Linked DNA regions of Homo sapiens. The protein of the gene in region 4 interacts with the protein of the main gene of each other region in a biochemical or structural test. Each region holds a gene or a part of one and is shown on either strand. Other genes may lie near its edges.

What was found.
Region 1: of the proteins of ING4 (region 4) and PADI4, one has a biochemical effect on the other in vitro, tested with the Homo sapiens proteins (one study listed by BioGRID).
Region 2: the proteins of ING4 (region 4) and HNRNPD form a complex in vitro, tested with the Homo sapiens proteins (one study listed by BioGRID and IntAct).
Region 3: the proteins of ING4 (region 4) and EGLN1 form a complex in vitro, tested with the Homo sapiens proteins (one study listed by BioGRID).

Annotation. Positions count from the first base shown.
Region 1 is NC_000001.11:17,339,192-17,346,218, forward strand, and holds part of PADI4 (protein-arginine deiminase type-4), read left to right. Parts: intron 1-496; coding exon 497-622; intron 623-2,751; coding exon 2,752-2,930; intron 2,931-3,107; coding exon 3,108-3,211; intron 3,212-6,836; coding exon 6,837-6,948; intron 6,949-7,027. UniProt on the Homo sapiens protein: Catalyzes the citrullination/deimination of arginine residues of proteins such as histones, thereby playing a key role in histone code and regulation of stem cell maintenance.
Region 2 is NC_000004.12:82,356,968-82,363,994, reverse strand, and holds part of HNRNPD (heterogeneous nuclear ribonucleoprotein D0), read left to right. Parts: intron 1-4,355; coding exon 4,356-4,524; intron 4,525-5,174; coding exon 5,175-5,336; intron 5,337-6,550; coding exon 6,551-6,682; intron 6,683-7,027. UniProt on the Homo sapiens protein: Binds with high affinity to RNA molecules that contain AU-rich elements (AREs) found within the 3'-UTR of many proto-oncogenes and cytokine mRNAs.
Region 3 is NC_000001.11:231,412,278-231,419,304, reverse strand, and holds part of EGLN1 (egl nine homolog 1), read left to right. Parts: intron 1-7,027. UniProt on the Homo sapiens protein: Cellular oxygen sensor that catalyzes, under normoxic conditions, the post-translational formation of 4-hydroxyproline in hypoxia-inducible factor (HIF) alpha proteins.
Region 4 is NC_000012.12:6,653,094-6,660,120, forward strand, and holds part of ING4 (inhibitor of growth protein 4), read right to left. Parts: intron 3,707-7,027; exon of another isoform or gene 3,706-3,706; coding exon 3,634-3,705; intron 2,821-3,633; exon of another isoform or gene 2,545-2,820; intron 304-2,544; coding exon 137-303; intron 1-136.

The DNA.
Region 1 (7,027 bases), on a different chromosome or scaffold from region 4:
CAGTCCCTTGGGAACCATCTCTTCACTCTCCCCACCCTCTACCCCTTCTTGGCTATTGTTCAAGTTGGTTCACAAACCCCACTTCTTGCTCAGGACCAGCACAGAAACCTTTCACTCGTTCATTGCACAAATCTCAGCCGAGCGCCTGCCGCCTGCTGGTCATTGTTCTAGGGAGTTCTCGGCTTTCTAGGTTCAAGATTCAGGGAACGTTGCAAGGAGCAAAATATTAATAAATGTGGTCCCCGCTTTGCTGAGGTTACATCCCCAGCTCATCCTAGTGGGAGGAGACCAAAACCTTAATGAGCTCTCATTCCAAAATGAAAACCATCATTTAAATACTCAAAATAGCATAAAGAAAAGAAAACCAGGCAACATGGTAAAGGGAGGTCTCAGGGGAGCGGTGGGGTGTGAGGCTCCACCAGGAGGTGAGGTGGCTATGGGAAACCAGCAGCGGTCTCAGGGCCCTGTGACTCAGGCAATGCCCTTCTCATCCCAGACCTGCAGGACATGTCGCTGATGACCCTGAGCACGAAGACCCCCAAGGACTTCTTCACAAACCATACACTGGTGCTCCACGTGGCCAGGTCTGAGATGGACAAAGTGAGGGTGTTTCAGGCCACACGTAAGTCATCCCCATCTTTGTTCCCCTCCTGCCCTGGCCAACGGGGCACAATCCTGTCACACAGCTGTGTGGCAGATAAATCCTGAGCACCTACTATGTGCCAAGTTCTAAGAACAGCAGACGCAGCAGTGGGCAAGACAGACGACATCTCGTCTACTACCTTCCAGTTGGAGGACACAGACAAAATGACTCGTTATTGCTCCCTGCTTTTCTTTCTCTCTCTCTCACACACGCGCGCGCACACACACACACACACACACACACACCTCCTGGTTATAGACTTTGAGTGCAAGCTGACAGCATGTGGCATGTAATCATTTGTTCTGCAACATCCTGCTAATCAGAGACATCAGGAACTTCTCAGTGACCCACGAGCACCTGCAACTAAGTAGGTGCCAGGTTGATCCCAGGCACGGGGCACAGAGCCATGACTGTGACCGAGTCCCTGCCCTCGTGTTGCTTTCATCTTAGTGGCTGGGAGAACTATAGGTAAAATAATTACATAAAACACCTAGTGTGTCCAACGCTGTGACATGCTATGTAGAAGAATGCGGCAGGGAAGGGGATGTGGAGTGAGGAGTGGAGTTCGGGTTGTGTGGAGAGAGGGTGGCCAGGGAAGGTGTCCCCCATGAGGTGCCATGTGAGCAGAGGGAGGTATAGGAACAGCCAGACAGACACCTAGGGGAAGGGCGTTCCAGGCAGAGGGAACGGCAAGTGCGTGGGCCCTGAGGTGAGATCATGCCTGTGGTTTGGAGGAATGCAGGGAGGCTAGTGCAGCTGGGGCGGAATGTGCAAGGGTTAAAGTGGGGGATGAGGGTGGAAGAGACAGGGCAGAGGGGAAGGGGGAGGTCAGGTAGGCGTATATTGACTTTGGCTTCTGGATGGAAGGAGATGGAGAGCGCCATGGGAGGGTTTTTTTTTTGCATGGGCCTGACAATCATTCTGATCCTGATCATTCTGCCTGGTCTATTCCAAGCTTTTTTTTTTTTTTTTTAATTTTTTTTTTTGAGAGAGTCTCACTCTGTTGCCCCGGCTGGAGTGCAGTGGTGCCATCTTGGCTCACTGCAGCCTCCACCTCCTGGGTTCCAGAGATTCTCCTGTCTCAGCCTCCCCAGTAGCTGAGGTTACAAGCATGTGCCACCACATCCAGCTAATTTTTGTATTTTTAGTAGAGATGGGATTTCACCAGGTTGGCCAGACAGGTCTCGAACTCCTGACCTCAAATGATCCACTTGCCTCAGCCTCCCCAAGCACTAGGATTACAGACACCATGCCCAGCCTCTGTTTCTTTTTTTTTTTTTTTTGAGATGGAGTCTCTCTCTGTCGCCAGGCTGGAGTGCAGTGGCGCAATCTCAACTCACTGCAACCTCCACCTCCTGGGTTCAAGCAATTCTCCTGCCTCAGCCTCCCGAGTAGCTGTGATTATAGGCATCCACCACAATGCCTGGCTAATTTTTTTGTGTTTTTAGTAGAGATGGGCTTTCACCATGTTGGCCAGGCTGGTCTGGATCTCCTGACCTTGTGATCCTCCTGCCTCGGCCTCCCAAAGTGCTGGGATTACAGGCGTAAGCCACCACACCCGGCCTGTTTCATTCTTAAAGTGATTAAACTGACACTGATTTGGTGACAGGTCAACTTATTGCCTCCACCCAGGCATCACCTCCTCCAGGAAGTTCTCAGGGATTCCCTCTATCACAGCTGTCTGCTATTTTCATGATCTCTGCTTCTCCCTACTCACCCGTAAGACTGTGCACTCTCTGGGGGTGAGGATAGGAGGACAGTGACTCTGTCTCCCTGGTCCCCTGCTGTGCCCCTGTCCCCCGCTGACATCTGGCTAGAGCAGATGCTCAGGAATGAGTGAAGGAATGGTGTATACTGGACTTCCTATAAAGTTTGGAATAGCTCAGGCACCCCTGCCACACCCTTCTGGGACTTCAGCCGGGGAGCAGCGTCCCAGCTAGAACTTCAGTCCTTTTCTCCTAAGGGGACTGGCCAGATTTGGCTGCAAGGGGTTCTCTGATGGTGCCATGTGGTGACCCTGGGAAAGGCTTCTGGGGAGCACTAAGGAGAGGAGGAAAAGTCTTCAGAAGTGGGGACGCAGACCTGAGTCTCCCCTGCCTCTCTCCTAGGGGGCAAACTGTCCTCCAAGTGCAGCGTAGTCTTGGGTCCCAAGTGGCCCTCTCACTACCTGATGGTCCCCGGTGGAAAGCACAACATGGACTTCTACGTGGAGGCCCTCGCTTTCCCGGACACCGACTTCCCGGGGCTCATTACCCTCACCATCTCCCTGCTGGACACGTCCAACCTGGTAGGCCGAGAAGGCAGCCCTGCATCGGGGGCCTGGGCTTCCAGGCAGTGGCCTGGCTAGGGAAAGGGGTACAGAGCCCAGCTGGGCAGGGGGACTCCAAACAGCTGCAGGAAGTGGTAGGTGCTGGGCCCTGGCAGCGGTGACAGCCCCTCCTTCCCCTTACCCCCTCCCCTGCAGGAGCTCCCCGAGGCTGTGGTGTTCCAAGACAGCGTGGTCTTCCGCGTGGCGCCCTGGATCATGACCCCCAACACCCAGCCCCCGCAGGAGGTGTACGCGTGCAGGTGAGAGGTCCTGGGGTGCTGGGGTGGGTCCAGACAACAAAGAGCCTGAGTTCCATCCGCAGCACTCACTGTGTGATGGGAAAAACAGTCACCCCTCCCCTGCCCACTGAGAGCTTGCTGCTTGTTGGGGGCTCTAAAAAGGCAGGGAAGTTCCCTACTGTTGTTGTCATTGCCTCTGTCCTGCCCTGATGCAGCTGAGGCTACGTTAACTCCCAGGGGCCTGTAGAGTGTGTCCCATGGACCTTGTGCACCAGAAACTCCTGGGAACTCATTTAAAATGCACCTTTCTGGGCTGGGCACGGTGGCTCACGCCTGTAATCCTAGCACTTTGGGAGGCTGAGGCAGGTGGATCACTTAAGGTCAGAAGTTTGAGATCAGCCCAGCCAACATGGTGAAACCCTGTCTCTACTAAAAAATACAAAAATTGGCCGGGCGTGGTGGCGCATGCCTGTAATCCAGCTACTCAGGAGGCCGAGGCACGAGAATTGCTTGAACCCTGGAGGCGGAGGTTGCAGTGAGCTGAGATTGCGCCACTGCGCTCCAGCCTGGGCAACACAGTGAGACTCCATCTCAAAAATAAAATAACCAGCCTGGCCAACATGGTGAAACCCCGTCTCTACTAAAAATACAAAAAATTAGCCAGGTGTTGTGGCATGTGCCTGTAATCCCAGCTACTCGGGAGGCTGAGGCAGGAGAATCACTTGAACCCAGGAGGCCAAGGTTGCAGTGAGCCGAGATTGCACCATTGCACTCTAGCCTGGGCGACAGAGCAAGACTCCGTCTTGAGAAAATTAAAAATAATAAAAATTAAAAATTAAATTAAATTAAATTAAATTTAAATTAAATAAAATGCACCTTTCTGGCTGCCTGTGAGCTGCTGGGTCTTATCCCTGAGGACGGGGCCCATCTGCATTTTGGGGAGGCCCAGGCAATCTTCCTGCAGTCTGAGAGCCGCTGACAAGTGTGCTGGGGTCTCAGGAGACCCTCTCCTCCCCTCTTCTGATAGCTTCAGGGGCAGAAGAGTAAGAGGGTAATGTGGTCAGGACGCAGGCTGGAATCCAGTGAGGACTGTATTCCGGTCCCAGCACTGTTCCAGGTGGTGTGACCTTGAACAGTGAACTCATATTCTGTCTTCTCCCAAGTTGATATGGTTTGGCTCTGTGTCTCCACCCAAATCTTATCTTGAATTGTACTCCCACAATTCCCACGTGTTCTGGGAGGGACCTGGTGGGAGATAATTTGAATCATGGAGGTGGTTTGCCCCATACCATTCTCATGGTAGTGAATAAGTCTCATGAGATCTGATGGTTTTATCAGGGGTTTCCACTTTTGCATCTTGCTCATTTTCTCTTGCCGCCGCCATGTAAGAAGTGCCTTTTGCCTCCCACCATGGTGTCCCCAGCCATGTGGGAGTGTAAGTCCAATTAAACCTCTTTTCCTTCCTAGTCTCAGGTATGTTTTTATCAGCAGCGTGAAAATGGACTAATACAGTAAATTGATACCAGTAGAGGGGGGCGTTGCTGAAAAGATACCCAAAATGTGGAAGCAACTTTGGAACTGGGTAACAGACAGAGGTTGGAACGGTTTGGAGGGCTCAGAGGAAGACAGGAAAATGTGGGAAAGTTTGGAACTTTCTAGAGACTTGTTGAATGGCTTTGACAAAAATACTGATAATGATATGAACAATGAAATCCAGACTGAGATGGTCTCAGATGGAGATGAGGAACTTGTTGGGAACCGGAGCAAAGGTGACTCTTGTTATGTTTTAGCAAAGAGACTGGTGGCATTTTGTACCTGCCCTAGAGATTTGTGGAACTTTGAACTTGAGAGAGATGATTTAGGGTATCTGGCAGAAGAAATTTCTAAGCAGCAAGGCATTCAAGAGGTGACTTGGGTGCTGTTAAAGGCATCCAGTTTTAAAAGGGAAGCAGAGCATAAAAGTTCAGAAAAGTTGCAGCCTGACAATGCAATCGAAAAGAAAATCTCATTTTCTGAGGAGAAATTCAAGCCAGCTGCAGAAATTTGCATAAGTAACAAGGAGATTAATGTTAAGCCACAAGGCAATGAGGAAAATGTCTCCAGGGCATGTCAGAGGTCTTCATGGCAGCCCCTCCCGTCACAGGCCCAGAGGCCTAGGAGAAAATGGTTTCGTAGGCCAGGCCCAGGGTCCCCATGCTATGTGCAGCCTAGGGACTTGGTGCCCTGCATCCCAGCTGCTCCAGCCATGGCTAAAAGGGGCCAGTGTAGAGCTCAGGCTGTGGCTTCAGAGGGTGGAAGCCCCAAGCCTTGGCAGCTTCCACATGGTGTTGAGCCTGCAAGTGCACAGAAGTCAAGAATTGGGGTTTGGGAACCTCTGCCTTGATTTCCAAAGATGTGTGGAAACGCCTAGATGCCCAGGCAGAAGTTTGCTGCAGGGGTGGTGTTCTCATGGAAAACCTCTGCTACAGCAGTGCAGAGGGGAAATGTTGGTTTGGAGCCCCCACACAGAGTCCCTACTGGGACACCACGTAGTGGAGTTGTGAGAAGAGGGCCACTGTCCTCCAGACTCCAGAAGGGTAGATCCACTGACAGCTTGCACCGTGTGCCTGGAAAAGCCACAGACACTCAACACCAGCCTGTGAAACTGGCCTACCAGGAGGGAGGCTATACCCTGCAAAGCCACAGGGGCAGAGCTGCCTAAGACCATGGGAACCCACCTCTTGTGTCAGCATGACCTGGATGTGAGACCTGGAGTCAAAGATCATTTTGGAGCTTTAAAATTTGACTGCCCTGCTGGATTTTGGACTTGCATGGGCCCTGTAACCCCCTTGTTTTGGCCAATTTCTCCCATTTGGAATGGTTGTATTTACCCAACACCTGTACCCCCATTGTATCTAGGAAGTAACTAGCTTGCTTTTGATTTTACAGGCTCATAGGAGGAAGGGACTTGCCCTGTCTCAGATGAGATTTTGGATTGTGAACTTTTGGGTTAATGCTGAAATGAGTTAAGACTTTGGGGGACTGTTGGGAAGGCATGATTGGTTTTGAAATGTGAGGATATAGGATTTGGAGGGGCCAGGGGCAGGATGATATGCTTTGGTTCTGTGTCCCCACCCAAATCTCATCTTGACATGTACTCCCATAATTCCCAAGTGTTGTGGGAGGGACCCAGTGGGAGATAATTTGAATCATGGTGGCAGTTTCTCCCATACTGTTCTCATGATAGTGAATAAGTCTCATGAGATCTGATGGTTTTATCAGGTTTTTCTCCTTTTTCTTCTTCCTCATTTTCTCTTGCCACCGCCATGTAAGAAGTGCCTTTTGCCTCCCACCATGGCCTCCCCAGCCATGTGGAACTGTAAGTCCAATTAAACCTCTTTTTCTTCCCAGTCTCAAGTATGTCTTTATCAGCAGCGTGAAAACGGACTAATACACGGGTGGAAGGGGTACCCACTAGTTCCTGCCTCATAACTTGTTAGATGGATTCCATGAGCTAATGCCTGCTAAGAGCAGATGGACCGGACGTGCCAGGAGCCTCTGTTCAGGCCACAGGTGACCCCTGAGCCACCTGTGTGTCCCTCCCAATCCTTCCAGGCTGAGCTTCAAATTCCAGAGCACTAAGGAGCTGCTTTTCTGCTCTCTCTAGTATTTTTGAAAATGAGGACTTCCTGAAGTCAGTGACTACTCTGGCCATGAAAGCCAAGTGCAAGCTGACCATCTGCCCTGAGGAGGAGAACATGGATGACCAGTGGATGCAGGTATGTGCCCTGCGGGGCAGGCAGGGTGACTGTCCCTGAGGGCCAAGAGACACTTGGGGGACCCGGGCTCCTGGGGTTC
Region 2 (7,027 bases), on a different chromosome or scaffold from region 4:
AAAAAAAGGCAGCAGTAGGGTTTAAACCCCGGCATTTTGTCTTTATTGCCTCTAAACTTAACTTGCTTTAAAAGATGATAAAATGTCCCACAAAGGAGCCTAAATTCCTGAATGATACTGCATATCACTTGGATAGTTATCTATGCTGAGTTGTATAACTTTATGCTTGTCATTTAATTTTACAATTTGGTGGAAGCCAATGTGAAAGCAAGGAGACTTCTGTTGTGGAGTAGGTGTTTTAAACTGAATACCATATTCAGCCTTGGGGTGCTGAATATTTAGTTCACAGCTAGGATTAAGATACTCAACTATGTTAATAAAATACAGTAGATGAAGTCCTGCATTTTAATTGGGATTGATTCACTTAGAACTAAGGATCAAAGTTTAAACTTATTGCAGCGTTAGGGGCCATCTTTGTTGCTAGTTGAACAAGTCTTGGTCGTTTTTAACATGGCTCCTTAGGGTATTTTCTGAAGTTCTGTCTACTTCATTGGAAAGTGTTTGCACTACGCAGGAGTGACAGCAATATGAAATGCTTTGTATTCAAGGCAGCAGAGGTAATCTGGACAGACAGTACATGTGCTTTAAAAGCAAGATACAGTCATAGAAAATATGTAGATAATTTAGCCGGGCATGGTGGCTCGCGCCTCTAATTTGGGAGGCCGAGGCAGGTGGATCACGAGGTCAGGAGTTCGAGACCAGCCTGACCAATATGGTGAAACCCCATCTCTACTAAAAGTGCAAAAAAAAATTAGCCTGGCATGGTGGCATGCACCTGTTATCCCAGCTACTCAGGAGGCTGAGGCAGGAGAATTGCTTGAACCCGGGAGGTGGAGGTTGCAGTGAGCCTAGATCATGCCATTGCACTCCAGCCCGGGCGACAGAGTGAGACTCTGTTTAAAAAGAAAAAAATAAGTATTTGTAAATGTATATATATATATATATACACACACACACACACATATATATATAAAATCATTATGCCATCAGTTTGAGGGAGAGCATGTATGCCAACATTGTAGAGACTAAGTGCCCATTTATCCATAATTAAGATAAGCAGACTTTTCCCCATTGTACTATAAAGTTAGAGTTTGGGGCTGGGTATGGTAGCTTCCGCCTGTAATCCCAGCAGTTTGGGAGGCTGGAGCGGGCGGATCACTTGAGGCCAGGAGTTCAAGACCAGCCTGGCCAACGAGGGGAAACCCCGTCTCTACTAAAAATGCAAAAATCAAGTCAGGCGTGGTGGTGCAGCCTGTAATCCCTCCCACGGAGGCTGAGGAATGAGAATCACTTGAACCTGGGAGGCAGAGGTTGCAGTGAGCTGAGATTGTGCCACTGCGCTCCAGCTTGGGCGACAGAGTGAGACTGTCTCAAAAACTAAGCAACCAAAAACAGAAAAAGATGGAATGGAATTAATATGTTCCATTTAGTAAAGATGGAATAGAATTGGTCCAGTTTGTGTTCATTGTAGCATATTCACCTATTTGGTCAGCAACCATTTTTTTTTTTTTAAAGCCTAAGCATACCCTGAGAACAACAACCTTTTTTGATTAGAACAGAAGAAAAAGCCAGAGTGTTCTTGGGCTGCCAAAATATTAATACGTTTGTCTCAAAGACGAGCCACTTAGGTGCTTGCTTAGAGACTTCTACTTTACACAGAATTTGAAAAGTTTGACAGCTGGCTACTTACTCTGCAAAACGGAAGGGAGACTTTTTAGAACAGCAACTGGTGATCTGGCAAAAATGAAAAGTAGAACTTGTGAAGAAATGAGATGGACTTGGTGTATTAATAGCTAATTTTAGAAGACCCTGTGGATATTCTAAATCAGCATAATAGTGATGTCTGAGCCATAGTGTTAAATTATGATTACTGTATTTGAAGTATAAGAAGGCAGAAAAGTGTGATGCTGTTAGAAAAAAATCTCATTTCAAATGATTGAAGGTTAAAAACAATTGGGGAAAGATTAGAGAGGGCAGGCGGTGCTTTAAGGGAGGTGGAATAATACTTGGCTCCTTATTCTCCAAAAGTGCTGGATAGCTGAAGTTTTTAATATTCTGGATAATTGATATTTGATTATTAGTTTAGGAGGGATAGCATCTTCAGTGAACCCTTGTAGCTCTAAGGTAGGCATATTAAACAACTACCATACTAAAGGTGGGGAGTACGTTTGGAGAGCACTTTGCTGGGCCAGCTGATGATATGCTTAGGTGATATTTAAGAAAATCTGCTTCTTGTCTGAAAAACATTTGGGGCTTCAGAATAATACCACATACCTCATTCTTGGTGTTTTAATTTATTTCTTTGTAATTGTTTTCTGTTTCTTAATAATTTTAAATTAAGGGTATTTTCCCAATATAAACATTGCTTTTTGGTTAAATAAAATCAAAACTAGTTCTGTCTCCATATCTGAATAGACCAGACAGAGAATTTTCTTGCCTTTCAACAGCTTAAAAAATGTTTTTGTTAGAACTGTTGTGTTCAGGCTGAAATACTTTCAAAGTTTGTTAGTTATTATTGAGAAATTTCTGTAATAATCATGGAAAGGGTAATTTAATAGTTAAATCTCAACTTAATTGAAGTTATTTCTGTTGTGGAACTTATGGTCATCTTAGCAAGAGGTCATTGCTTTATAGTCAGTTCTCTTTCTCATTAAAAATATAGTGTACTCACCTTTACAGGGTGAATGTTGGTAAATAACTTCTGTCTGTGAAGGAAGTATTCTGGACCTGTAAGTTAAAAATAAGGTGTTTATAGCAAATTATGTAAATAAAGATTGTATATTAGAAGGTACACACTATTCAAATTAAAGAAAATGTATATTGAGAAAATAACTCAAATTTCTTCCATGAAATTGGCAAGAAGTAAACATTTCAAATACACAAAACATTATGGGTATTTTTGTTCATTTGATTATAAAATGCCAAAGTTGTTTTATAAATGCTACTTCAAGCCTGGAAACTTTGAGGAAGTCCTGAACATTAAGCATATAAATGGCCCAGCTCTAGAATACATGTAAGTTGAAAAGCTAACCTGAAGTGGGAAGCGCAGTATATACCTAAGACTTACTCTGCACTGAAAGTTTGCTTTGTCACTAGAAGTAAAACAAGACTGTGGTAGGATAGTAAGATCAGTAACACCTCAGTTAATCAGGTATCTTGGAGGAAGTGAAGAAAGACCCTAATTCAAGGGACAGTTAATTGGCCTTTTATTCCAAGAATGGGCCTTAGTGGCAGTATCTTAAAAGCCCACAAGATGGAGATGTTTCCTAATGAAAGGCCTTTAATTTCTTTATAGAGCTGAGTTAGTGTCACATCCCAGTCCCCACCCATGACCCTTCCCCAGTTAAAAAGAAGAGAAAATGTTGAGCAAGTCTGATTTGATTCCCATGGTGACATTTTTAGCCATTATGTAACAAATTCTGACAGTTTACCCTTAAAATTAAAAACCTCCAGTCCTGTCTTTTTAAAGGGTAGAAAGAAGGTTAGGTATAGGATAGCTTTTTATTTATTTATTTATTTATTTTTGTACAAAGGGAGCCTATGTAAAGCTGCCAGATCTGAACTTTCTGGTGTTTTGCTGTAATGTTAGTAAGATTTCGCCTTAAAATATTTTATTTTGAGTATATACGTTTGGTCTTAGAGTGTCTTGGTGGATTTCCGCTTACCACCCATCACTTTCTGCATTTTAAAGGCTTAAATACTTTATTGCTGGTTAACTGAGGTTCTACTGTAAACGAATCATCTAAGTTAATTAGTGGATTGTACTTCAATGGATAATTTTCACTAAATTGTTTATATTGCACATTACTTTTGTCTTAAGGACTCTTAGCACATCAAAAAAATTGGCTCACAACTTAATTGTGAGATGTAGAATTTTCCATTTTATGTGCTAAGAGTTTTGTTAATGAGAGAACTGTTAAAATAGAAAAGGAGCTTCAGCATAGACACCAATGCTGGTTGCTGAGATCAGTGGGGAACTGCATAGCATTTTAACAAGTTTAATGAACATTTGGAAGAGAAATTTGAAGCTAAGATTCTGGTTTTTTTGCTGTTAACTTTTTAATCTAAGGAAAACTTTTATGTACAGTATTTTTACTTTGGGTATATGTTTATCTTTTAGCAAGTTGAAAGACTTAATTTGCTGCTTGCTCACTATTTTGTAATTATTTGGGAGCAGCAGTAATAAGCCAGCTTTTTGGAATAGGATGTTCCTGATGTGTGGTTATGTAGGAAGAATGATGTTTTAATATACTGCCCAGTAAACTGGTGCAGTTTGGAAAAGGTGTGTTATTGATGTGGATAATATTTAAGGCAATTTTTTTTAAGCATTTTAATACTGCTTTTTGTCTTTACAGGAAAATGTTTATAGGAGGCCTTAGCTGGGACACTACAAAGAAAGATCTGAAGGACTACTTTTCCAAATTTGGTGAAGTTGTAGACTGCACTCTGAAGTTAGATCCTATCACAGGGCGATCAAGGGGTTTTGGCTTTGTGCTATTTAAAGAATCGGAGAGTGTAGATAAGGTAGTGTGTTACGTGTTCTGATCAGTTAATAATATAAAATATTAACATATGGATAGTTTGATACAATGAGTTTGCCTATTTGTGGTTCCCCATTTTGATAGTATAGGAAGGAAGAATAGTTCTTGCCCCAATACGTTTTATGAAGATAGAGGTAGGTTCAGGAATTATTTCCTGAATAATTTGTGTTCCAGGCTCTGCTAAATTTTGAAATTAACTTTAAAGATACTATAGACTTAAAGATGCCTAGTTAAAAGGATGTGTTTTAGCAATTCACAGAAGTCCATATTTTGAAATTTTGTTAGGCAAGCAACTTTTAACTGAATCATTATTTTGATCCTGGGCTAAAGGGAAGTAGCAGTTATGTTTGTATATAGTGCTAAAGGGAAGTAGCAGTCATGTTTGTATATATTGAAGGTAATGGTTATCTAGTAATTGGTTAAATTTGTGTATGTCCTACCATTCTTACCTTTAGATTTAAACAGTATATGTTAGTTGATGTTACATCACCACCATGACTTGACAGTTTAATCTTGAGCAAGTCAACATATGCTTGGCATTATCTGTATTTATAGTTATTTTTAAGTAAGTTAATAGTCTCTGAACTTCAGTTAAGATATATATTTTTTAAATGAAAACTTCAATTTCCTTAGGTCATGGATCAAAAAGAACATAAATTGAATGGGAAGGTGATTGATCCTAAAAGGGCCAAAGCCATGAAAACAAAAGAGCCGGTTAAAAAAATTTTTGTTGGTGGCCTTTCTCCAGATACACCTGAAGAGAAAATAAGGGAGTACTTTGGTGGTTTTGGTGAGGTATGTTATAAATGTTTTGACCCAGTTTATGTCAAAATTAGTGTGAATGTGATTGTCCCATTATGGACTCAGAGTCACTTGGCTTTTCAAAGCTGTTAGGGTAGATTATGTGATCTGTTTTGGAATAAGGATATTGTAAATACTTCATTAGCAGGTCTTTGAAGGTTGGATAATGTGTTTTTCTCATTGAGCACCTACTCTATGCAGAGTATTGCTGGGGTAGAGTATACAAAGATGAAATAGACAAACATTCTTAAATACAGACAATTAAGAGGAAGAAATCTAGATTAGAAGGAGACTTTTGTTGAAAATAGGAAAGGAATTAAGAATAGGGTGTAGTGCCTTATCAGTTGAAATGCATGTGTAAGTGCAAATTTAATGAGACTAATCATTATAGACTCATTAGTGAGGCTGGACGCGATGGCTCATGCCTGTAGTAATCCCAGCACTTGGGAGGCCGAAGTGGGTGGATTACTGGAGACCAGGAGATGAAGACCATCCTGGACAACATAGTGGGACCCCGTCTCAATTAAAAGTAAAACAAACTTAGACTCATTAGTGAAATAGGTAGATAATAGAGGTTTCTTTTATGAATTAATGAAAGTTGAGAAATTTGTGGCCTTGGGCTCCAGATACGTCCCACAGACATTTATTGCTTGATTGAAACAATAAGTGCTTTTTTAGTGTTGAGGATTTGAGATATTGCCCACAAAACTCAGTATCTAGCTTTTTAAAAAATACTTGCAAGAGCACGCAACATGGGAACTGACGCTGCCCTCCTGTACGGCAGCATCTCTCAAACTGAGTAGTAGCTTCCATCTTGGTTTGGGCATATGCTCTCCAGTTTTTAGTAGTCCTCACCACCCTACTTCCTGTTTTCTCTCAAATACATTTTTATTCTGTTTTTCTTAGATTTGACTGTTTTCTTCTTGTTCTTTGTGGGCATTTGAATTTGTGACCCTTGAGTTAGGTAGTAAATGTCAGTGCGTGGTAAAGCTTATTTTTGTAAATAGTTGTGAAGACCTTAGATGGAATGGGTGTTCTAATTTGAAGAATTCCTTAAAAGGATTAGAATAAATAGGGAGAAACAGGAGACTAGAACTTCAGTGCCAAATACATGTTTTCTTTGTGTGTTTTCCCCCCTCTAAACTTGTGTTTCTTTTAAGGTCAATAAAATGCATGTTAGCATATTAAAATTTGTTTTTTAATACCAGGTGGAATCCATAGAGCTCCCCATGGACAACAAGACCAATAAGAGGCGTGGGTTCTGCTTTATTACCTTTAAGGAAGAAGAACCAGTGAAGAAGATAATGGAAAAGAAATACCACAATGTTGGTCTTAGTAAAGTAAGTTAAGCATCCATTTACTTGTAGAGAAAACTAGCTGTTGTAAAGAGCTTAACCATTTATCTTTCTCTGTAAAGGCTTAAGTTCTTTGCATGCTTTAAAAACTTCTCATTGGTTACTTACCATTGACCAACTTTTTGTGGGGAGCAGGATGGACACATTTGTTAGTGTTTTTGTCTAGGCTTTCACAAAAATAGTTTTTAGAACTTGACAAGTAAAATGAAGTAACATCACTAGCAAGTACTCATAAGTGATTACTCTTAAGTACTAAATATTGGTTTAATTAATAAACTGACTGAGGAAAGTTTCAAATTAGCCTACTCTATTTAAACATGTTGGCTATTC
Region 3 (7,027 bases), on a different chromosome or scaffold from region 4:
GCAGACAGCCTGGCTCTTAGAGCAAATGCTTCTCATAGAGATGCTATTAGGAAATAGGTACCTCCTTCCTCAAGAGTTCTAGTTGTTGGGGTTTTAAGTCACGTAACTGTACATATTAGCAGGTAATAAGGGACAGGATGAAGGAGGGATGACCTTTAAACTCTTTGGATTTGATCTGCTTATATTAATTTTAGGGACGCAACTTCAGGATCTATAAATGATATTCAGGAATTCCTTTCATTGTACTTCTTGGCTGAAAGAGGTTTTGGTAATCGTGTTTGAACATGTAATTTATTCCTAAAAAACAAGGGTGTTTGCTTTGTGGAAATGAGAAGGCAATCAAAATAACCACCCACCGTATATTGAGCAACCAACCACAGTGTGTTAGGCATCATATTAGGATCAATACAGATACAATCAGAGTATTTTTTTTTTTTTTTTTGGAGACAGGGTCTTGCTTTGTTGCCCTGGCTGGAGTACAAGGGTGTAAGCATGGCCCACTGCAGCTTCCACCTCCTGGACTCAAGCTATCCTGCCATCTCAGCTTCCGAGTAGCTGGGACTGTAGGCACACACCACCATACTTGGCCAAATGAAAAAAAATTTTTTTTGTAGAGTCAGGGTCTTGCTGATCATTTGATCTCGAACTCCTCGGCTCAGGGGATCCTCCTGCCTTGTCCTCCCAAAGTACTGTGGTTACAGACTTGAACCACCTCACCTGGCCACAATAATCTTAATTCTGTGAAGTGAGTAGTGTTATTCCTAATTTACATTTGAGGGATTTTCAGCTCAGACTTGGCAGAGGTCTACCACTTACTATAACCCTGGCTGGTGTTCAAACTTAAGTCATTCAGATATCAAACCCATGCTCTTTTTTAACTACGCTAGTTATAGGTAGAACATTAAATGAGATGTAGATTATTTAGCACACTGCTGGAACTGCAATTTGATACATATATTTTGTTGAAAGTGGGTGAATAGCACTAGCTTTATATGTGAGTAATCATACTCTATGGTTGGGCTGTGTAAAACTTTTTATTAGGTGACTGTACAATGTTTATTTCAGATAGTGGCTTAAAAGCCACTTTTGTATTTATCCACCTGAATTATGCGCCTGTCAGTATACTGTTAACAGATGTCAGAATATGGTTTTTTTATGTGATTGCAGAGGGAGACTTCAATTCAGAATTTTATCCTTCATAACATTATAGTGATTTTAAAAGTTATATGCAGCAAATGTGTAGTATTTTTCTCATTTCAACTTTCACAGCAGTAGGCAGGTGGTTGTATCCCTTTTTTTATAGATTAGAAAAGTGGGACTCAGGAAAAGTTAGTTCACTTGTTGGAAATTCTGCAGCATATTAGGACTTAAATTCAGGTTTTCTGACTAAGAATCTGATGTTCTTTTTTATTTACATCATGTATATTGCATGCTCTTTATGTCAGGGCATGGTAATCAGATGATACATGATAGTCTGTGGCCCATTCAGTGTAGGCTTTGTTTTCCCCTGAATTTCTACTTCAAACATGCTTATCTGGCCGCTGTTTATGCAACTACTTTAAAAAAGGAACCATAAGGGAAAAATGAAGTCATACAGGAGAAAAACAGAAATGTAATTGTAGCCACTGATACAACCAAGCTCCTGTTTCCACTTTCTCTGGTCTTTTTGGGATTTTCTCCTTTTTGCCGTTACCCTGCCCTTTGATCCTATGTCCTTGCTTATGCTTGTTTTCATCAAGAAGAGTCTCAATGATATGCAGTAGAAAGAAACCATGGTCTGCTGTTTTGTGAAGAGTAGTGTGCCTTGACTTGGGGGTACAGGAGGAAGAGGAATGCAGAGGAGTGAGGATCATGGGAAAATGTTGAACTTTTCTGTTGGAGTTTCTTCGCCACTATGAAGGAAAACATTTTCCCATTAAAATAGAAATACTAGAATCATATACATAACATTTTTGGAATTTAATCCAAAACTTCATCTGTTCCGTTAAAACATACATAAAGAAAAGGAGTAATAAAATAGGTTGGGACTAATAAGCAGCAGATTATATTACTAAGATTTTTCACTATTACTGTAGTTAATTAGTTAGGTCTGGCTGATTATGGCTTTTAGAGCAAAGAATAGGATGAGGAAAATGCAGCTGTTTTATTATCACTAACAGAGATGTGGTGAACAATCCTCTTAGATGTTAAAAACGAAACTGACCCAGGAAGAGAGCCCTCATCAGTACCAGACCATGCTGGCATCCTGATCTCAGACTTTCAGCTTGTAGAACTGTGAGAAAATAAACTTATGTTATTTAAACCTAAATACATAAGTACACCTTTATCTCCTTTTTCCATTCTCTTTGTATGCTTGGGATCCAGGATACACAAATTGAAGTTACTTGTTTAATGATTTTATAACTATGTCAGAATTTAAGTTAAAAGTGAGTTACTCTGTATGTAGAAAGGCTGAAAATAGTACAACTGCAGTAATTCTGTCAGCTATAAGGGACGTGTGGACTGAGAGGGTAGTCTTAATAGATTGTGATCAACTATATGTGAAAACATTTTGTGTAGTGAGTTGATGTGTAGTTTACATGTAAACTAACTCCTTTAGTTCGAAAGGAATTTTATTTTACGTTAAAAGATTATTTTAGGCTGGGCTTTAGTGGCTCACGCCTATAATCCCAGCATTTTGAGGGGCTGAGGCAGGAGGATCGCTTGAGCCCAGGAGTTCAAGACTGGCTTGGGCAAATGGTGAGACTTTGTCTCTAAAAAAATTAAAAAATTAGCCAGGCATGGTGGTGCGAGCCCATGGTCTCAGGTGGGATGATTGCTTGAGCCCAGGTGATAGAACAAAACCCTATCTCAAAAAAAAAAAAAAAATTTTTTTTTTGTATGTATGTAACTCTTTACTTATCTACTACCTAATAATCCACAAAAATACCCACAAATCCTTAATTACGTGGAGGAGGAGGAGATGATAATAGAGATCATTTTAACTTTGAAAGATAATGGATTCCGGGCCAGATGTGGTAACTCACCCCTGTAATTCCCAACACTCTGGGAGGCTGAGGTGGGACGATAGCTTGAGTCCAGGAATTCAAGACCAGCCTGGGCAACATGGCAATACCTCATCTCTATTAAAAAAAAAATTATTAAGAAAGAAAGGGGCCAGGTGCGGTGGCTCACGCCTGTTACCCCAGCACTTTGGGAGGCTGAGGCGGGTGGATCACAAGGTCGAGGGATTGAGACCATCCTGGCCAACCAACATGGTGAAACCCTGTCTTTACTAAAAATACAAAAATAAGCTGGGTGTAGTGTTGCATGCCTTTTAGTCCCAGCTACTTGGGAGGCTGAGGTAGGAGAATCGCTTGAACCCGGCAGGCAGAGATTGCAGTGAGCCGGGATTGTGCCACTGCACTCCAGCCCGGGCGACAGAGCGAGACTCCGTCTCAAAAAAAAAAAAAAGAAAGATAATGGATTTGGTTCTGCCATTAGATCTGGGTTGGATCCTGGGTCTGCTATGGTTTCTGTATCCTTAGTCCAGTTTCTTAATTTCTTGAGTCGTCAGTTGCTCCGTTTATAAAATGGTGTTCAGTGATACCTGTGTTTTTAGCTTCTCAGGCTTGTTGTGAGGTGAACATATAATGTTTCATGTAAAGCACCTTTTAGATGGTAAAGCGCTATGCAGAACTGTTCTTAACTATTACTTCTCCCATTTAAAAAATTTGCTATCTTTCTGATTCTTTTAAGAATTCTGTGCTTTCCCTGTCTCATTCCCCTCCGATAAACTGGAGAAAAAAGGGCTTAGAATGATCACCCATTTTTTTACCTAACCACTTTTCCTGCATTTACACATTTTTTTTTAAAAGAGAAGAAATAACATTTTTTTAAGAGAAAAAAGTCCCAGAGAGATTAACTTCTTCAAGGTCATAGAGCTGGTGACAAAATCAACAGACCTTTGATTTAGTTCATTCATATCTGTAACTTTATACATATTTCTACTTAACTAATTTTGGCATATTTTACGCTTTTTTTTTTTTTTTTTTAAAGGACAGGGCCTAACATGCCCAGGCTGGAGTGCAGTGGTGCAATTATGGCTTACTGCAGCCTCCAGCTCCTGGGCTCAAACAATCCTCCCACTTGAGTCTCCGTAGTAGCTGGGACTACAGGCATGTGTCACCACACCTGGATAATTTCTTAAATTTTTTTGTAGAGACGGGATCTCGTTATGTTGTCTAGGCTGGTCTAGAACTGTTGGCCTCAAATGATCCTCCTGCCTTGGTCTCCCAAAGTGCTGGCTCATGCCTGTAATCCTAGCACTTTGGGAGGCCAGGGTGGGCGGATTTGCTTGAGCCCAGGAGTTCCAGACCAGGGGGCAACGTGGTGAAACCCATCTCTAAAAACAATACAAAAATTAACCAGGCATGGTGGCACATGTCTGTAGTCCCAGCTTCTTGAGGGGCTGAGGTGGGAGGATCGCTTGAGCCTGGGAGGTAGAGGTTGCAGTGAGCTGTGATTGCACCACTGCACTTCATCCAGCCTGGGTGACAGCGAGAGCCTGTCTCAAAAAAAAAAAAAAAAAAGTGCTGGGATTACAGGTATGAGCCATCGCACTGGGCCTCTGCCATTTTTGAGAATATGCTTGAACATTCGAGACTTTCTTCTCCCTTTTGCTTCTGTCATTCTACATGTTGGCTTATCTGACATTCTAGTTTAAATTTTTCTCCTACCTAATTTTCTTAAATGTTCTTTATCCATCTGTCTTTCCTCTGATACTATTTAAAGCCGTTTGCCCTGAAGTAGGCCTACCCTCTCTTGTTTCTTTAGTAGGAGCTGTCTTCCCACTCTGTGTTTCTGAGTGACAGTTTACTCCTGTTTTCCTTTCCCTTTTCTCTCCCATCAGGCTTGAAATCTTTGTTCTTCTTCCATGTTTTCTGAAGCCTGTGCCTTTCTGATATGCCTTTGGATTGATGTTGTCAGCTTAGTTGTTTTTGTTTAATTTTTCACTTTAGGCCTTTAAAGCTACCCCAACTATTTCAGTCTCCCTTTTATTCTAGCACATTCTTGGGCAGTTTCTTTTTCTTAGATTTTACTTCTGTGCTTACATTCCACCTTCTTTTCCACTGTGCCCTCGTTTCCACACTTGGAACATTGTCTGTGACTACATGATGGCATTCAGATAATTTACTAAGTCCATTTTCAGAGCTTGTCTTTGCCTTTTATTTCAGCTAAATCTCTTCTAAAAAAAAATTGATATAGATGGTTAACCAAAATCTTCTCTTACAACAGTTTATTTCATGCCTTATTTCGTAGTCAAAACTCAACTTTTCTGCCACCTTTGTACTTCATAATCACATTTTTCCATAACCAATTCAGAATTAGTTTCATTTCTGAAGAGCTTGGACAGTGTCTGTTGACTTGAGATCCCCATAAAGTTTTCATGAGTTTGGAATTCTCTTTTTTCTTATTCAGTGTTCCAGGTCCCATTTCTTTACCAAAGCAAAATACGTGTACTCTTTACCCTTTGTTATATTTTCTGAGTCCTGTTTTGATACTATTTTCACTCATTTGTTCATTCAACAAATGTTGAGTACCCTGCACATACAGGCCCTGTTCTAGGAGCTAGGGTGTCCTGAATAACAACAAAAAGCCCCCCTTCTCATGGACCTTATCTTCTAGTTGGAGGAAGTGTGGGGTGGGGAGGGACAGTCAATAAACAGATGTACAAGTAATACATGGCACGTTAGGTGGTAAATATTAAGATGGAGAATAAGATAAGGACAGAGTGACTAGGGAGTACTCTTTTAGATAAGATTGGTAAAATAAGGTGACATTTAAATAGTGACTTGAATGAAGTGGGAAATTAGTTATGTGGATATGTGGAAGAGGAGCATTTTCAGGAATGGTATTAAATAGCAAATACAGAGGCCCTAACTTGAAATGTGTTTGGTGTGTTCAGAAAACAGCAAGCACGGCACTTTGGGAGGTCGAGGTGGGCGGATCACTTGAGGTCAGGAGTTCGAGACCAGCCTGGCCAACATGGTGAAACCTCACCTCTACTAAAAATACAAAAATTAGCCAGGCGTGATGACATCCGCCTGTAGTCCCAGCTACTCTGGAGGCTGAGGCAGGAGAATTACTTGAACCCAGGAGGTGGAGCTTGCAGTGAGCCAAGATGATGCCACCGCACTCCAACCTGGGCAGCAGCGTGAGACTCTGTCTCAAAAAAAGAAACAGAAAACAGCAAGGAAACCACTGTGGTTTTAGTGGAAGGAGTAAAGGATATGTGATTGATGTAGTAGGATAGGAAATGAGATCAGTTTGTGTAGGATATATTCTGGATATATTTTGAAAGTAGAATCAAATGAGATTTGCTGATACATTAGATGTGGGGTATGAAAGAATGGAAGAGTCATGAATGACTTAAAGGGTTTTGGCTTGAGCGATTGGAAGGAAATTATTGTTTTATTTTGACCTAAGTCTTCTGCTTTTCTTCTCTTGCCCCCACTTTTTCAGTGTTGCCATTTATGATAGCTTGCTGACACTTACTTCCCAGCCAAGCAACAAGAAAAAAGTTATATGTTCTATATTTTCACATTCCTTCAAATTGGCTGTGCTAGCTACTACTACTGTTGACCTTCTAGCCCCATCCTTTCTTCTCTAGAGGTTTTAAGGTTTCTCTGTGCAGTATGCTTGTATCAGCTCTACCAGTGGAACCGCCTTCAGGAATTATTGCAGGAAACCTTGCAACACTTTTAGTGTTGTCTATAAGTATGTCTGTGCTTCCTTGCATGAACCACTCATTCAAGATGGCTTGTGAATCCACGTAAAAAGAAATATACGAAGTTTGAACTTTAGGGGAACATTAGAGAAAATTGAATGGTTCAACATAAGGGAAGCATAGATTTAGATTCAATGTCAAAATGAAGTCAGAAATAAAACATCTTCATTTAAACCTACTGTTGAAAATAAAACTGTTACAGAAAATTGGGAAGAATGGAATTACCGTAAAATATCAAAAATAGTTCCACTGACTTAT
Region 4 (7,027 bases):
CAATTAAAGAAAATAGGTTAAGGCAGAGTTTATGGATCTCACAGACCCCAAACAGATCCCAACACAGTTGAAGGAGGGGTCTAAGACCCTGAGGATTAGATGGGAAGTAGGTGGGGAGCCATGAACAGGGCCATACCATCTCATAGGTCTGCATGGCAAGCTGCACCTTGTCGTCACCAAATTCCTTGCACTTGCCATAGGCTTCCTGGATCTGTTTGAGAAGGGCCAATTTTTCCTCGGAGCTCAGGCTGCGGGCACTACTCATATACTCAGTGGCCAACTTGTCAATTTCAGCCTTCAGGTCTACAACAGAGACAGAGGCCTGGTCACAATGGCCCCTGAGTGGCTAGGTGAAACACATTTCTTCCTTTTGTTCTTTGGACCTTTTCCATTGATTAGCATAACCTTCCAACTAAAAAGTACTGAATGTTCAGAGGTACTGTGCCATGCACTCAAGTAATGGAACATACTGACAATATTTGCTTTAAAGGTCCTTTCAAGGTGCTGAAAACATTGCTATCATAGTTGGAATTTAAATTACTGAAACACAGCAAGGGATCCTTTGCACACCACATTAATATGAAGTGTATTTTTGTCCATGTTTGAAGATGCTTCTTTGAAGGGCTTGCTGCTTCTTGAATTTTGTCTCAAAAGCCATTGTTTCCTTCTCAAAAACATCCCACAGCAGTTGTCTGCCGCAAATCAGGCTGAGTCATCTGCTGTTGCTGGTTTCCAAGTCTGTACATCAATATCATACATTTCAAAATTATTAGTATTTTTTCTTTTTGACACAGGGTCTCACTTTGTCGCCCAGGCTGGAGTGCAGTGGCACAATCATGGCTCACTGCAGCCTCAACTTCCTGAGCTCTGGTGATCCTCCCATCTCAGGCACCACCACGCCTGGCTAATTTTTTCTATTTTTTTGTAGAGACAGGCTTTTTCCACGTTACCCAGGCTGGTCTCGAACTCCTGGGTCAAGCAATCTGCCTGCTTCAGCCTCCCAAAGTGCTGGGATTATTGGGGGTGAGCTACCATGCCTGGCCTAATCTATTTATTTTTAGAGGCAGGCGCAGGTTCTCTCTTATGTTTGTTGCCTAGGCTGACCTCCAACTCCTGTCCTCAAGTGATTCTATCTTTTCGCCTCCTGAGTAGTTGAGTATATCACACAATTTAAAATTAGACCTTACTCCAACATCCATGTAACAATTCTGCTTATCTTACTGCTCACTCTATTTTTCTTTTTTTTTTTTTTTGAGACAGGGTCTCACTCTATTGCCCAGGTTGGATGGAGTGCAGTGGCATGATCATGGATCACACTGCAGCCTCAACCTCTGAGCTCAAATGATCTCCCATTTCAGCCTCTGGAGTAGCTGGGACCACAGGCACATGCCACTACACCCTGATAATTTTTTTAAAAAAATTATTTCTAGAGATGAGGTCTCACTATATTGCCCAGGCTGGTCTTGAACTCCTGGTCAAATGATCCACCTGCCTCAGCCTCCCAAAGTGTTGGGATTCCAGGTGTGAGCCACTGCAGCCAGGCTGCCCATCCTATTTGGCTCATCATTGCAACTTCTTTCATTTTCCATTACTTCTTTTTTTCCTGTTTGTCCATCCTAGATATTGCTCCAAACACGTTTTTTTGTTTTGAGACGGAGTCACGCTCTGTTGCCCAGGCTGGTGTGCAGTGGCACGATCTTGGCTCACCTCAACCTCTGCCTCGTGGGTTCAAGGGATTCTCGTGCCTCAGTCTCCCAAGTAGCTGGGACTACAGGTGTGCGCCACCACATCTGGCTAATTTTTGCATTTTTAGTAGAGATGTGGTTTCACCATGTTGGCCAGGCTGGTCTCGAAGTTCTGATCTCAAGTGATCTGCCCGCCTCGGCCTCCCAAAGTACTGGGATTACAGACATGAGCCACGGCACCCGGTCTCCCAGATGTTTTATTTTATTTTATTTATTTTTTTTTGAGACCAAGTCTCACTGTGTTGCCCAGGCTGGAGTGCAGTAGTGTGATTTCAGCTCACTGCAACCTCCACCTCCCAGGTTCAAGCGATTCTCCTGCATCAGCCTCCTGAGTAGCTGGGATTACTGGCATGCGCCACCACACCCGACTAATTTTTGTATTTTTAGCAGAGACAGGGTTTCACCATATGGGCCAGGCTGATCTCAAACTCCTTATCTCAGGAGACTCACCCGCCTCTGCCTCCCAAAGTGCTGGGATTACAGGCGTAAGCCACCGCACCCGGCCCCAAATGTTTTAATATTGGAAGAATGGTAATGTCCCAGGACATTGAGACTATAGATGTTTACTAATATTTGGAAGGGCTCATAAATATGTCAGTAGTAAGAGACAAGTCTGACTCTAACATAGTGCAGCAACAGATAACCAGGAGGATCTGTGAAGACACTGTTTATACTCCACTTCATTCCAGGCTCTTGGAAGAAGCTGAAAAAGCATATAGTTCCATAATCTCCAACTGTCTTTCCATGCATGAACTCAAGAGTTACAACTGTATTACAAAAAAAGCAATCTGGTTCTCACCATTCGGCAGGCAGTTCTCAGGGAACTGTGTCCAGGGTTTTTGATGATGTTCACCTTTTCATGTGTAAACTCAGAGTAACTTAAGACACAGCTTCATGTATCTCAAAACCAGTCTGTTACATCCTTGAACATGGCTACATAGAATGAAGACAAGACTACAGATCCTTCAGTGGGTATGGGAATAGCTCCAACAGACATCTTTGAAGAAACCAAGTGAATGCCCCAATGCAGCCAAATTTGCTCAATGTTCCAGGCTGGAGATGGTATCTAATGCTTCTGTAAGTGTGAACGGTATAGAGATCCCATTGTCAATTACTGCTTTTTTTTCTTTCCTCTTTCTTTTTTCTTTCTCTTTTTAAGGACTTCTCATATAGCAAACCTCCCATCTACCAACATATGTTGCAGTCTAAAGTCACACTGGGAATTTGTGACAGTAACATTAACAATGAGAGAAGTAGAAACATTCTAGTCATCCTATAAATATATCAAACGTGGAGAGCAGAAATGACTCGAGTTGACTTTCTTTAATTCTTCTTTTTTTTTTTTTTTGAGACAGAGTCTTGCTCTGTTGCCTAGGCTGGAGTGCAGTGACATGTGGCATGATTTGGGCTCACTACAACCTCCACCTCCCAGGTTCAAACGATTCTCACGTCTCAGCCTCCCAAGTAGCTGGGATTACTGGTGCGTGCCACCACACCTGGCTAGTTTTTGTATTTTTAGTAGAGATGGGGTTTCACCATGTGGCCAGGCTGATCTCAAACTCCTGGCCTCAAGTTACCTGCCCGCCTAGGCCTCCCAAAGTGCTGGGATTACAGGTGTGAGCCAGCCTGGCTAATTATTCTCCAGGAAGACATAAAGAACACAGCATCTTTGAATTCTTGAGGCGTTTTCACAATACTCTATTTGTTATGAAAAAGCTGACACAGAAATGAGGATCATTATCCTGTTTTAAGAATTCCAAGAGCGTAAAAAAGGAGCGAGAGAAGCCACAGTTCTCCAGATCATACCAGATGATACGGTAACATCAAGTAGAAAAATAAATGATTACACACACTCATTAGATACAAAAACTTTTTACTCTATACATACCCTCTGTTCTTTGGTCTAGGTCCCTCATGAGCTGAAAGTTTCTCTGTAATTCAAAGGGAAGGTTTTCAATACCTAGGGAAGAGAGAGAAACAATCACAGGACTGACTATGCATAGGCCTTACAGCTCCTTTTAAAGTGCAGTTCAGGCCGGACATGGTGGCTCACGCCTGCAATCCCAGCACTTTGGGAGGCCAAGGGGGTGGATCACTCAAGGCCAGGAGTTCAAGACCAGCCTGGCCAACATGGCGAGACCTCCATCTCTATTAAAAATATGAAAATTAGCCTAGTGTGACGGTGGGCATCTCTAATCCCAGCTACTTGGGAGGCTGAGGCATGAGAATCACTTGAATCCAGGAGGCAGAGGTTGCAGTGAGCCGTGATTGAGCCACTGCACTCCAGCCTGGGCAATAGAGCAAGTCCCTGTCTCAAAAACAAACAAATGGCCAGGCATGGTGGCTCACACCTGTAATCCCAGCACTTTGGGAGGCCGAGGAGAGCAGATCACGAGGTCAGGAGATTGAGACCATCCTGGCTAACATGGTGAAACCCCGTCTCTACTAAAAATACAAAAAATTAGCCAGGTGCGATGGCGGGCGCCTGTACTCCCAGCTACTCAGGAGGCTGAGGCAGGAGAATGGCATGAACCTGGGAGGCGGAGTTTGCAGTGAGCCGAGATCGCACCACTGCACTCCAGCCTGGGCGACACAGTGAGACTCCATCTCAAACAAACAAACAAACAAACAAAAAATAAAGTGCAGCTCAGTTTTCCTTCCTCTGAACCTCTGGATTTATCTGTGACAGGATGGATCAGTTCTCTCATGACAGGCCATGCTTAACTCTTTCTCTACAAAACCTTTCCATTTCTGCATGGCTATCCCACCCTTTTCGCCTTCAGTGACCTTCCTTTATAAATAAGCTCTTCCCGTCAGGTGTGGTGGCTCAAGCCTGTAATCCCAGCACTTTGGGAGGTTGAGGCGGGTGGATCACGAGGTCAGGAGTTCGAGACCAGCCTGGCCAACATGGTGAAAGCCTGTTTCTACTAAAAATATAAAAATTAGCCAGGTGTGGTGGCACGTACCTGTAATCCCAGCTATTCAGGAGGCTGAGGCAGGAGAATCACTTGAACCTGGGAGGCAGAGGTTGCAGTGAGCCAAGACTGCACTACTGCACTCCAGCCTGGTGACAGAGCGAGACTCTGTCTCCAAAAAAAAAAAAAAAAGCTCTTCCCTTTCTTTTCCTTTTTTGTTTTTTGAGACGGAGTCTGGCTCTGTTGCCCAGGCTGGAGTGCAGTGGCACGATCTTGGCTCACTGCAGCCTCCACCTCCTGGGTTCAAGTGATTCTCCTGCCTCAGCCTCTGGAGTAGCTGGGACCACAGGCGCGCGCCACCACACCCGACTAATTTTTGTATTTTTAGTAGACACAGGGTTTCACCATTTTGGCCAGACTGGTCTTGAACTCCTGGCCTCAGGTGATCCGCCCGCCTTGATCTCCCAAAGTGCTGGGATTACTGGCATGAGCCACTAAGACGGGCCCCTTTCTTTTATTTTCCATCTCTGCCTCCAAGCTCTTTGTCCTCAAATTACAAATAGTCTCCTGGTATCCTCTATTATACACATAACACTTCCAATCTACTTCCATATAGTAGCCAGAATGTCCTTTTTAAAAAATGCAAACCTGGCCAGGCACGGTGGCTCATGCCTGTAATCCCAGCACTTTGGGAGGCCCAGGTGGGCGCATCAGCTGAGCTGAGGAGTTCAAGACCAGCCTGGGCAACATGGTGAAACTCTGTCTCTACCAAAAATACAAAAACTTAGCCAGGCTTGGTGCACATGCCTGTAATCCCAGCTACTTGGGAGGCTGGGGCACAAAAATCCCTTGAACCTGGGAGGTGGACATTTCAGTGAGCCGAGATCACGCCAATGCACTCCAGCCTGGATGACAGAGCAAGACACTGACTCAAAAAAACAAAAACAAAAACAAACACAAAAATAAAAAATGCAAACCTAATCAAGTCACTCTCCCGCTTATAACCTTCTGGTCACTTCCTACTGCTCTGAAGATGTTCTGCGCTTTCTGGCCCTTGCTTACCTCACACCAGCCTGAACTCATGTCAGTCTCCCTTTGTGCTCTGCTTTGCCCATACTGGCCTCCTCGCACTGCCTCAAACTGGCCTGTGCTCCTCCTGCCATTTGGCTTTCCACATGCTGTTCTCTCTAGTTGGAATGCACCGCTCGCTTTTCCTCATCCCATCCACCCCATCCCTCTTGGCCTATTAAATTCCTGTTCGTTCTTCCAAAGTTCAGCTCAAACTCAACTTTCCCAGACTCTGTTAACTGCCCTCGATCTATGTCAAGGTATTCTAGCCACCTTTTTAAAGCACTTATCCAACTGTAATTAAATAAATGTGTAATTAGTTGGCTGGGTGCGGTGGCCCATGCCTGTAATCCAGCACTCTGGAAGGCAGGTGGATCACTCAAGGCCAGGAGTTCAAGACCAGCCTTGGCAGCCTGGCAAAACCCCATCTCTACTAAAAATACAAAAATTAGGGCCAGGCACGGTGGCTCATGCCTGTAATTCTAGCACTTTGGGAGGCCGAGGCGGGTGGCTCACTTGAAGCCAGGAGTTCAAGACCAGCCTGGCCAACATGGTGAAACCTGTAATCCCAGATACTTGGGAGGCTGAGGCACAAGAATTGCTTAAATCCGGGAGGTGGAGGTTGCAGTGAGCTGAGATCGCACCACTGCACTTCAGCCTGGGTGACAGAGTGCGACTCCATCTCAAAAACAAAACAAAACAAAAATTAGGCCAGGCGCGGTGGCTCACACCTGTAATCCCGGCACTTTGGGTGGCCGAGGAGAGCAGATTACGAGGTCAGGAGATTGAGACCATCCTGGCTAACATGGTGAAACCCCGTCTCTACTAAAAATACAAAAAAATTAGCTGGCCGTGGTGGCGGGCGCCTGTAGTCCCAGCTACTCGGGAGGCTGAGGCAGGAGAGTGGCGTGCATCCAGGAGGTGGAGCTTTCAGTGAGCCGAGATCGCTCCACTGCACTCCAGCCTGGGCGACAGAGCGAGACTCTGTCTCAAAAAAAAAAAAAAAAAATAGATGGGCATGGTGGCCTGTGGCTGTAGTTCCAGTTACTCAAGAGACTGAGGCAGGACAATTGCTTGAACCAGGGAGGTAGAGGTTGCAGCCCGGGCAAAAGAGCAAGACTGTTTCAAAAAACAAAAAAATTAAAAAAAATAATGTGTAATTAGTTATTTGGTATCTGTCTCCCCAGGCCGAACATGGCTATCATATTCTCTCCTGTTTCCATAGTGTTTAGAATTATGACTTGCAAAGAGCAGGTACTCAGTAAATACTTGAATAAATGCATGAATATTTGTCACCCC